Linked DNA regions of Homo sapiens: region 2 is linked to region 1. The links come from fine-mapping of genetic effects on plasma protein levels. Region 1 holds a variant in brackets. A gene starts in the other region. All regions are shown on their forward strands.

Region 1 (5,377 bases):
AGGGCTATTGCATTAGCAACTAGTCAGTAAGTACGAATCAAACCTCTCCAAATGTGTGATTGGATTACATTTCTCCCTTTAGGAGACTAGAGCATTTGAAATTTTTTCTTTTTTTTCAGTAGAGACGAGGTTTCACTATGTTGGCCAAGCTGGTCTCAAACTCCTGACCTCAAGTGATCTGCCCACCTTGGCCCTCCAAAGTGCTGATGTGAGCTACCATGCCTAGCCAGAGACTAGACTATTTGAAAAGTAAATTCTCAGTTACCCTATAACCCTAATGCCTGGCACAGTGACGGGCAGACTTGCAACATTTCATGGGTGGATGCACTGAAAGATTGACCTATGGGTTCCAGAGTTTCCACTTCATTTGAGTGTTATTTGCTAAAAAATACAATGAAAGTAGAATTTACGACTGAACTTAAAGATCTAGTGTATGCATTACTTACTTTAATGTAATTTAAATATTCACATTATCACTTAAATTTTAATATTGCATTCTGTTTCACTGGATTATTATATAAGGTAATATCAAAACATAAACGGCTCCAAAATTATCAAGATAAGTCAGTCCCTGTGAATGAACTTGGTACAAATCGACATAGAATCATGAGCTTAACCTTGTAGAAATAACTCTTCCCAAGAGCTAGTTTGTAAACGAGTTGCTGTTACAAACTTAGGAATCAGCTAAATCAAATCAAGATTATTAAAATGTGACTTTAGAGAGTTATTAGAAAGAAAAAAATGTTAGTAGAAAGAGATGGCCAGCAAGCAGCAAACAGCCTTCTTCGGTACACTGTAATTATCTTAATATCTGTGCAACCCCCAGTCGCATCCCCATTAAACTACAAGCTCTAAGAGAGCAGGGACATTTCTTTTTTCTCTTTGGCACCCCCAGATCCTAGCATACCACCTGACATACCATGCTTGTTGGGGTTTCTGGAAGAGCCTAGATGTTCTCCTCTTATCCCTTCCAGATTCTAAACCAGTTGAGAATCAAAACATCAGCTTTCTTAATAATAGAGTGGAAGCAAAAACAGTTTTTACTATTTCTTGCCTCAATGAGATCTTGAAGTAGGGAGAGTTTGGTCTCTAGGACAGATCCCACTCAGCTAGCTTGCTTTGCATGGAGAGGATGGTAAAGCTGGGAGTATAGAACAAATATTGTCACCTGCAGGGAATCAAGGCCTCTTGCTGTCAAGAATTGTGAAGGGTCTGAGACTGTAGCCTACTTGCAAGCTAACAAGGAGCTTGTAACTGTTTTTTGGATGCTGGCAAAATACATAAGACTCCTGAGTCAGAGACACATGAGTGTATTACTCACAGCAAATGCCGTAGCCAAACTATTAGTTTGATGGTCACACCAATTTCCCATTTTCTCTCACTAGGTCCCATAGGGAAAATATACGTGGTCCTAGATGAACCCTGAACATGCAGAGAGTTGTGTTACAAGAAAGTCTCTACTTGGGTGGTTCACTGCTTTTATAGCAGGTGGAGGCAAAGCCTGCTCTGTGTCCAGAGAGAGATGTTACCTTCTCTCTGAAGGTTGCTGCTGAAAATGCAGACTTGGGAAAGAGTACTCACAGTCTTACATTCGTGGCATACACAGAAGAACATGTAGAGATGCTCAGGGCCCATAGTAGATTGCCCCTTCTAACACCAATCAGATCAGGACCCCCTTCCCATGGGAGAGGAAGGAGAGGTTGAAGAGAATGGGGAGGAGTTACTCCAACACCTCTCTCCTGGAAAATAGAGCAGCAGTCCCCTTAAAGGGGAACTTCCCAGATATTTGCTCACTTAACCCTTGGGGTTTAACAAGCAGGTCAACTGGGCTATGGATGCTTCTCTTTGGGAAGAGAACAGAAGTTTATGAGGGTAATCCTGCTGCCACATTTACTAGGATATGTCCAGATCCACTATTGTGCCTCGTATGGTCCTCTAGGGACGAGTTGTGGGCAGTCCTAATTTTGCCCACTGTGATGGCTAGTTTTACGTGCCAACTTGGCTAGGCTATCATGTCCAGCTATTTGATGAAACACTAATGTGAGTGTTGATGTGAAGGGATTTTGTAGATATGGTTAACATCTACGATCAGTTGACTTTAAGTAAAGGAGATTACCCTCGATAATACAGTTGGGTACATAGTTGGGAGATTACCCTCATCCAATCGGTTGAAAGGTCTTAAGAGTAAAACACGTTACCCTGAGGAAGAAAAAATTCTCCCTCAAGACTACAACATTCACTGCTGCCTGAGACTTTCCAGCCAGCCAGCCTACCTTACAAGTTTCAGACTTACCAACCTCCACAACTCCATGAGCGAATTCCTTGAAATACAACCTACTGCTCTGTTTCTCTACAGAACCCAGACAGATAAACCCATGTATCAGAAATAGGCCAGAACAAGATATTAAATAAATCAGCCGACAGCTCTACTGCGTTCTT[G/T]CTCACCACACAGCCTTGTAATGGCTTACTCAGGGTCTCAAGCCTCCGGATACCTGAGAAAAAACAGACATCAATAGTCCAGCCACTGGGAGATAACAAATTGTCATCTTTGCTGTGCAATTCATATTTTCTGAACCAAAATACGAGAGCACACGGTCAAACGGATACGAATGTACTTTTGGGGAAAACAGAGGGAATATTTGAAACCTGTTTGTTCCAAAAAGTCTGGGACATAGAGTCATTTTGTTTATATAGCATATGGGCTTGCTTCACCCTATTTCTCCCCACCAGCCAGATACTCTAAATATACCTCACAATGTTCAATTTCTGGACACTGTAAGACCAAGGATCTCCCAATTACTCAACAAATCTCCACTGAGTACCTCAGAAAGCCCAGGCACCATCTCGGCATTTTGGATTAAAGGAAGAAGACGCCACTACTGCTCACTGAAGGTGCACAGCTTGATGGTGGGGGGCAGAGGGCAAGTGGAAGGACAGTCACAGAACAGGAATACCCGTGTCCCAGTAAAGCCCAGTCCCTGGTACCCACACAAGTTTCTACCACCCCACCTCGGAGGCCACATGATAGGGGCCTTCCTTCTGTGCCATTTCATCCCTTCCTAAACTCAACAAAGGCTCTCTGTACTGTTCAGAGTAACTAAACTCATTTCTCTACAGGATCACCTCAGCTGCCCACATCCATGACTTTCAGTCCACCCAAAGAGAAATCACAGGGACAAGGTTCACCCCAGTGGCAGCGTCCTTGGTCAGCCTGGCCCTTTGGCCTGCTCAGACAGGCCTCAGAGGCACCAGAGCTTGTCCTAGGCCCTAGGTTCAGGGCTCCCTTCCTTATATGCTGCTGTTTTGGGTTTTTTTGTTTGTGCGTTTGGGTTTTTTTTTGAGACGGATTCTCACTCTGTCACCCAGGCTGGAGTGCAGTGGCGCTATCTCGGCTCACGACAATCTCCGCCTCCTAGGTTCAAGTGATTCTCCTGCCTCAGCCTCCCAAGTAGCTGGGACTGCAGGCACCCGCCACCACGCCCTGCTAATTTTTTGTATTTTCAGTAGAGACGGGGTTTCACCATGTTAGCCAGGATGGTCTCGATCTCCTGACCTTGTGACCCGCCCGCCTCGGCCTCCCAAAGTGCTGGACATGCTTCTTCTGAGAAAGACTGGAGCTGACAAACATGAACTGCTGCATTCCTCTGTCCTGGATTTGCCTCCCACACTGCACTATTAGCTCTGGAATGCAGGAAGCTGCTTTCCCAGACCCTGATCCAGCTGAAGTGTTCAGTGCCCTTGTGTTGAGGGAAGGAGGAAAGAAGGCAGAGAAAGAGTGAAAGAGGCTTTACAATGAGAAACCCCAGTGGCAAAGTCAAGAGAGCATGAAGAAGAATCCTGGGATTGAATACTGTCAGCTCTTAACTTTTAGTGTGACTTTGGGCAAGTGACTAAAATTTCTGATCATCAGTTTCCTCATCTGTAACAATGGGCTCATAATAGTTCCACTTCCTAGGGATAAAGTGAGACGATGTCTGTACAGCACTCAGTGGAGTATCTAGCAAACAATAACACTCTGTGTATGTTAATTTTTTAATTATAATCATTGTATCATCACTCTTGACCTGCAATTCCTTGCTCACAAAATGAGGAGTTCAACCAGGTAACTCCCAACTCCCTTCCAGTCCAACAGCTCTGTAACTTGCTAAGGCAGAAATAAACTCTTTTAACTTACATCAGCCCCACTTCACAAATGACAATGGACACTAGGAGAGTGGAGGTGCTGGAGCCCAAGTTTGAGTTCTGCCAGATCCAGCAACCAGTTTTGGATGATTGCTAAATCCAGTTGAAAGGCTTCCATCCCTAAATTGACTTGTGTCTTGCATCTTGTCGCAACACTAAGCTAATATTAAATCTTTCATTCAGCACACATTGAATTGCTACTGATTGTCACATTGTGTCTCAGATTAGCTTTATTGCATTATATATTCAGCCACGTACAGCTCGCTGAAACCAGCATCCAGAGTCACCTCTCAGCTCTCTGCAGGCTTTAGAATGTTTTTGGGATTGTGAATTTCTTATAGAATGGGACAAAATTTTCATTGAACAACTGGCAACTTTCATTGGACAACTGACACTTCACAACTAAGGAAAAGAACCTCAAAAGCACTGTCTGCCAGGAATATAAATCACCACTGATCAATTTCAATGACTTCCAGTGCATGAATCATTTTAGTAATAAAACTGTTTGGGAAAAGACTGAAGGATTGTGTCTCTTAATCTTACACACCCAGAATCTGCTATTAAATATGTCCAGGGCAACACTGGGTTATGGATTCACTTGAAGAACCGTTTAATTCCTCAAAACGATCAGGACTCAAGTTGAATTTATAAACGGAATTAAACAGAAGATTTGTTGCTCACTAGAGTAAGTCAGTAGAGCTGAGATATATGGGTGATTTTTCTCCCATTAACGTATCTCTCAATACTCAAAAAGTAATAACTTCTGAAGAATTGCACTTATCCAGGACAAACCGGATAGAGTAACTACAATTCTTCTTCCTTCAATATTCCACATGCTTCTCCTTCCCCAATGAAAGCAATCTTCTTTTTCTAATAGAGTTTGCTTCCATTTCTGTCTACCCCTCCCTCAAAAAAGAAAATTACAAGATTAGCTAAAAATTAGATTGCAGTATATTTCACAAGTTAGTACTTAACTGACCACGTATTGATTCATGACGGTTAATATTGACTCCTAAGTACACTACGAGACCCTTAGCAGTAGAAACACCATCCGGAGTTTTCCCTGTGTTCTCCCACATATCCAGAACAGTGTTTCTCAATCAGGGCAACTTTGCCCTCGGGGGGACATTTGGCAATGTCCAGACACATTTTGATGGTCACGACTGGGTCATGGTAGATGTTACTGGAATCAAGT
Region 2 (5,377 bases), not on the chromosome of region 1:
GGGCTGGGGCTTACTTGAAGGTTCCCCCGAAGGCCGCGTGCATTCTGGAGACAGAGGCCTGGCAGGAGACATTGGACACTTTCATCCGTCCAGCGGGATCCCGGGAGAGCTCCAGACCAGTGCGGATGGACACACCCTCAGCTGAGGCGTTGATGTAGCCCCCATCATAGCTGCCAGGGGGGTTAATATTCACTCCAGGTAGGAGCTCAATTGAGTCTTCAGTGCCCCCATGCATCACCATACCTCTTAATAAGGTTTCACCTCTTTCCACACATCCTACCAAACCTTCCTATCAACTCGTATGAAATGCATATGCCTGTTTCTGTTACACAGATGAAGAAACGGAAACTCAGGAAGGCTAAGGGGGCTGCCCACAGCCCCACAGCACCTCCAGCCCTCCTGACCCACTCTCCACTCCCCTGAGGGTGCTGGGTCCTTACAAGAACCAGTAGAGCAGCTGTCTCCGGAAGCGCAGCCCCAAGGAGGCATTGGTGATTTGAAGCATCAGCTCCTGCTGTGGCTGGAAATCGAGCTCGGAAGATGTCAGTTGCAGCTCTGTGACCTTCACCCTACAGGAGGCCTCAGGGTCAGATCCAGGGCCAAGAAGAGGGAACTTCCCCCAACGACAGGAAATTTGTCTGCTCCCCTTTCAAGTCCAGGCCTGGGGAAGCGGGAGTGGGTGGAATGAATTCTTCCATTGTCCCTCAAGTGCCCAACTTAGACTTGGGTGGCTCAAAGTTGAACTTGGGTGGCTGAGAGAGGAGGTCTTCCTGATCCAGGTGTTAAAAATGAGCTTCACCCCATCGCTTAAAAGTCTTGTTTGTTTGTTTGCCAGGTGCGGTGGTGGCTCATGCCTGTAATCCCAGCACTTTAGGAGGCCGAGGAGGGCGGATCACTTGAGGTCAGGAGTTCGAGACCAGTCTGGCCAACATAGTGAAACCCGTCTCTACCAAAAATACAAAACTTAGCAGACCGTGGTGGCACGCGCCTGTAGTCCTAGCTACTCGGGAGGCTGAGGCAGGAAAATCGCTTGAACTCGGGATGCGGAGGTTGCAGTGAGCCAAGATCGCGCCACTGCACTCTAGCCTGGGCAACAGAACAAGACTCCCTCTCAGAAAAAAAAAAAAAAAAAGTCTTGTTTGCTTGCACCCCCTCCCCTCCCACACCCTGGGGTTGCTACACCCGGTCTTTTAATAGAGTCCGTTCACTTTGCCTCCATCACCTAAGCTCCGTCTCACATCTCAATTCCTTATTCCCCCTCCCTCATCCTAAACCATACTTAGAGCCTTCAGTTTCTCCACCCCTCCGATTAACTCCACCCCGTGCCCGAGACTCCACTCTCATCTATTGGGAAGTTCCTTGACTCCACCTTTCTGTTGTTCTTCGACCACGCCTCACATCCACTGGTCCTGCTTCCTTCTTGGCCCCCTCTACATTTTCAAGGCCACGCCCATCTGCCTGGTCCCGCCTATGATGACTGGCTTGGCCTTTATCTTTTCGGCCCCATCCGGTTTCTTAAGTCTTGCCTCATCGATTTGGCCACGCCCCATCCCACTCAGCCTCCAGTCTCCCGAGACCCTGAGATTTCTCGGGCCCCGCCTCCACCGCCGAGGCCCCGCCCCGGATCGCGAGGCCCCGCCCCCCACTTACTCAGAGATGTTGTAGTAGAAGTGGCCTTCTTTGCCCCGCAGGTCCGGAATGGTGATAGTCTCCAGCTCTTGCTCCAGAAAGCGCAGCCCCTCCTGCTTCACTGAAGCAGCAGAGAAACCCTTACTTAGCTCCCGTGCCCACTGTTGGGGCGACCCCAACCCCGTCCGCTCCCGTCCGTCCCTGTCTGCCCCTGCGCCTTACCCAGCTCCAGCGCCTTGGAGGTGACGCGGATCTTGCAGCCTGGGAACTCTGCATGTGCGCCTGCCAGCAGCGCTAGGAAGAGGGCCCCGAAGAGGGCCATGGCGAGCGGGCCTGGGGGTGGGGTGGGGTCGCAGGAGTTATCTGAGCCGCTTAAACCCATTCCTTGGACGTCCAACCATAAGTGGGAACTAGCCTGGATCGTTACCCTCCAGATAACTCTTCGGGGAACTTGGAACCAATAATCTTGCCTCCATATGGCAGATGTGGAAACTGAGGCTCAGAGAGGCGATGCGACTTGCGTTCTGGCTCCCAGAGGATTTGGGACACGGGGGAGGGGACGTTCCCAGTTCCCTCGTGCTACCGCCGCGTGATGAGTTTGGACCTCCAGGGGACCAGCCCCCACACCCCCAACAACCTCCCCTTTCCTTTAGCGGTGGGCCCATGCAGGCTTGCACGTTGCCACGGCAACGACTGCACGCGCATTCTTGGAGGGTGGCTTGCGGTCTCCTAGGCCTCGCGCCCGGGGAGGAGAGGAGGTGGCCGACCAGACCGTGGGCTCCCGGGTCTCCCGGCTCCCTCAGGTCCTAAATCTCTCCCATTAGAGATTCTGCCTGGAGCCCCCATGTTAGCGTTCTCCTTCATCGGCTCTCCTCCCCACGCCGGCTTCAGTGCACCACGCGGCTCGGCGAGGGACTGGGAACGGGATAGGGACGCGCCCCAACTCACTCAGCGGTGGAGCTGGGGGGCGGCGCGGTCACGTGGGATGGCGGGCAGCTCAGGGGATCCGGGCGACGGGGTCTGGCGGGCAGGGTTGTTCCAGCCGCCTTTATAAAGCCGGCCTCCCCGACCCCTCCTCCTCTCTGCAGCTCTCCCCTCCTCCCTTGGGGGCTGGGAGGGGACGGGGCGGGACGCTGGCAGCCGGGAGAGTGGAAAAGGCTGCACAGAGCCCCGTGACAAGCCCGGCCGCTGTCTGGACAAGTGGGAGACCCAAGCCCAGGGAGAGGGAAGGAAATGCAGGAGCCGGCCCACTCAGCCCCAACAATCCCACTTTGCTGGGACCTTGGTTCAAATTACAATTATCCATGTCTTCCTGCATGATCTTGGGCAAGTCACTTCACTTGGGTCACTGACCCTCAGTTTCTTCCTTCAGCGAAATGTGCACGATGATAGGAACTACCTCTTGGGCCTTTATTACAACCAGGTCCAGGCACAAAGTCAAGGAATATTTTTTCTTTCCCTGCCACCCACAATCATCTCGGGACCTCCTTGCCTGGCTTTGCTATGGGCCCCCCTACCTGTCTCTGTGTCACCACCTGGGGACCTTAAGGTCCCAGAGACCTTTCCCACTTGGGAAAGCAAGACTAGACAAGTGCTGTCAGCCCAGGAACATACCACACCGGCTGAAATCAGAAGGAGGTCTGCCATTTATCGTGGCTGGTGGATTGTTTTTTCTATTTTTTTTATTTTTATTTTTTGAGACGGAGTCTCGCTCTGTCCCCCAGGCTGGAGTGCAGTGGCGCGATCTCGGCTCCCTGCAAGCCCCGCCTCCCGGGTTCACGCCATTCTCCTGCCTCAGCCTCCCCAGCAGCTGGGGCTACAGGCGCACGCTGCCACGCCCGGCTAATTTTTTTTGTATTTTTAGTAGAGACGGGGTTTCACCGTGTTAGCCAGGATGGTCTCGATCTCCTGACCTTGTGATCCGCCCGCCTCGGCCTCCCAAAGTGCTGGGATTAAAGGCATGAGCCACCGCGCCCGGTCCACTGGTGGATTTTTTAATGAACCCTTGGAGCAAGGTGCTCTGAACAGCATCCCCGCCCCCACCCCCACCCCCACCTCCATCTACTGCTTACAGGGTTCCCGGACCCTAGGACAGGGCACAGAGTGGGTGCTTGCCACCTTTTTGTTGCCAAATGGACGAAAGAAAGGGGAAGCAATAATCATGTCTGCTGAGCATGTATTTAGCACCAAACACTCATCTAGGAAGGATGACTAACTCATCCTGATTTGCCTAGGACTTTCCCCATTGTGTCTTTTTTTTCTGATATAATCCACAGATTCACAAAAATAGTTCCATTTCCTTTTTTATTTAATTAATTAATTAATTTTTTTGAGACACAGTCGTGCTCTGTCACCAGGCTGCAGTGCGGTGGTGTGATCTTGGCTCACTGCAACCTCTGCCTCCTGGGTTCAAGTGATTCTCCTGCCTCAGCCTCCCAAGTAGCTGGGACTACAGCCATGTGCCACCACACCTGGCTAATTTTTGTATTTTTAGTGGAGACAGGGTTTTGCCATTTTGGCCAGGCTGGTCTTGAACTCCTGCCCTCAAGTGATCCGCCTGCCTTAGCCTCCCAAAGTGCTGGGATTACAGGTGTGACCCACCATGCCCAGCCTATTTATTTATTTTTATTTATTTATTTAAGATGGAGTTTCTCTCTTGTTGCCCAGGCTGGAGTGCAATGGCGCAATCTCGGCTCACTGCAACCTCCGCCTACCAGGTTCAAGCAATTCTCCTACCTCAGCCTCCCAAGTAGCTGGGATTACAGGCACCCACCACTACGCTCAGCTAATTTTTTGTATTTTTAGTAGAGATATGGTTTCGCTATGTTGGCCAGGCTGGTTTCGAACGCCTGACCTCAGGCAATCCACCTGCCTTGGCCTCCCAAAGTGCTGGGATTACAGGCGTGAGCCACCGCGCCCGGCCGCCTATTTATATTTTTAGAGACAGGGTCTTGCTCTGTTGCCCAGGCTGGAGTGCAGTGGTACAATCACGGCTCACTGAAGCCTCCACCTCTTGGGCTCAAGCGATCTTCCCACCTCAGCCTCCTGAGTAGCTAGGACTACAGGCAGGTGGTACCATGTCATGTCCAGCTAAGTTTTGTATTTTTTGTAGAGACAGGTCTCACCATGTTGCCCAGGCTGATCTTGAACTCCTGGACCCAAGTGATCCTCTTGCCTTGGGCTCCCAAAGTGCTGGGATTACAGGCGTGAGCCACACATCCAGCCATCCCCATTTTGAAACCATTCCTGGGAACCCACTCAGTCCCTGGGAAACCTTACAACTGGTCATCCGAATTCTAGGTAATTTATTTAACCTTAACAACCTGTCAGACTGGCACTATTATGAACCCTCTTTAACAGGAAGTAGAGGTTGAAGCAATTCTGTGGCTGCTATTAGGGAATCCGTAGACTGTTCATGGAAGAGTGGAAGGTGGGCTTTATAGCCCGGTAGTTATGTACTTAGACTCTTGTGTCTGACAGACAAGAGTTTACACCCCAGGTTGTCAGTTCTTAGGTGTATGACATTGATCCCTTGCTTAAGCACTCAGATCTTCAATTTCCTCATCCTAAAATGGAAACAATAATTTAAGGTTATTGCAAGAATAAATGGGCCTGGTACATGACACATCATTAGTGCCAAATAAATGCTAGCTATCTTAATTAGGGGCACATACCACGAGCAAACAAAGCAGAAAAGGTGTAGAGGGAGAACAGAGAAAGTGTTAAGAGTATCCAGAGGAGGAAGTAT

Direction of the effects. Positions count from the first base shown, and alleles are read on the strand shown. Strength reflects both the effect of a copy and how common the allele is.
With allele G in place of T in region 1, the plasma level of the protein whose gene starts at base 2,654 in region 2 is lower (moderate association).

What was found. PIP is the posterior inclusion probability: the model's chance that the variant is causal. Protein levels are from antibody-based Olink assays in UK Biobank. Linkage for the fine-mapping came from a reference panel and not from the study's own genotypes, which makes the PIPs less certain.
Region 2: it holds the start of PLTP, and the variant in region 1 is fine-mapped to the plasma level of the PLTP protein (UK Biobank, PIP 0.98).

Annotation. Positions count from the first base shown.
Region 1 is chr15:58,386,005-58,391,381 of GRCh38, forward strand. No RefSeq gene overlaps it. Among named protein-coding and RNA genes, the nearest start is that of LIPC, 43 kb to the right of the region's middle. The variant G/T (reference allele first, on the strand shown) is at 2,440.
Region 2 is chr20:45,909,502-45,914,878 of GRCh38, forward strand. PLTP (phospholipid transfer protein) reads right to left here and starts at 2,654. Exons shown (of 16, transcript NM_006227.4): 1 at 2,578-2,654; 2 at 1,852-1,962; 3 at 1,651-1,750; 4 at 441-569; 5 at 15-170. The coding sequence starts at 1,951.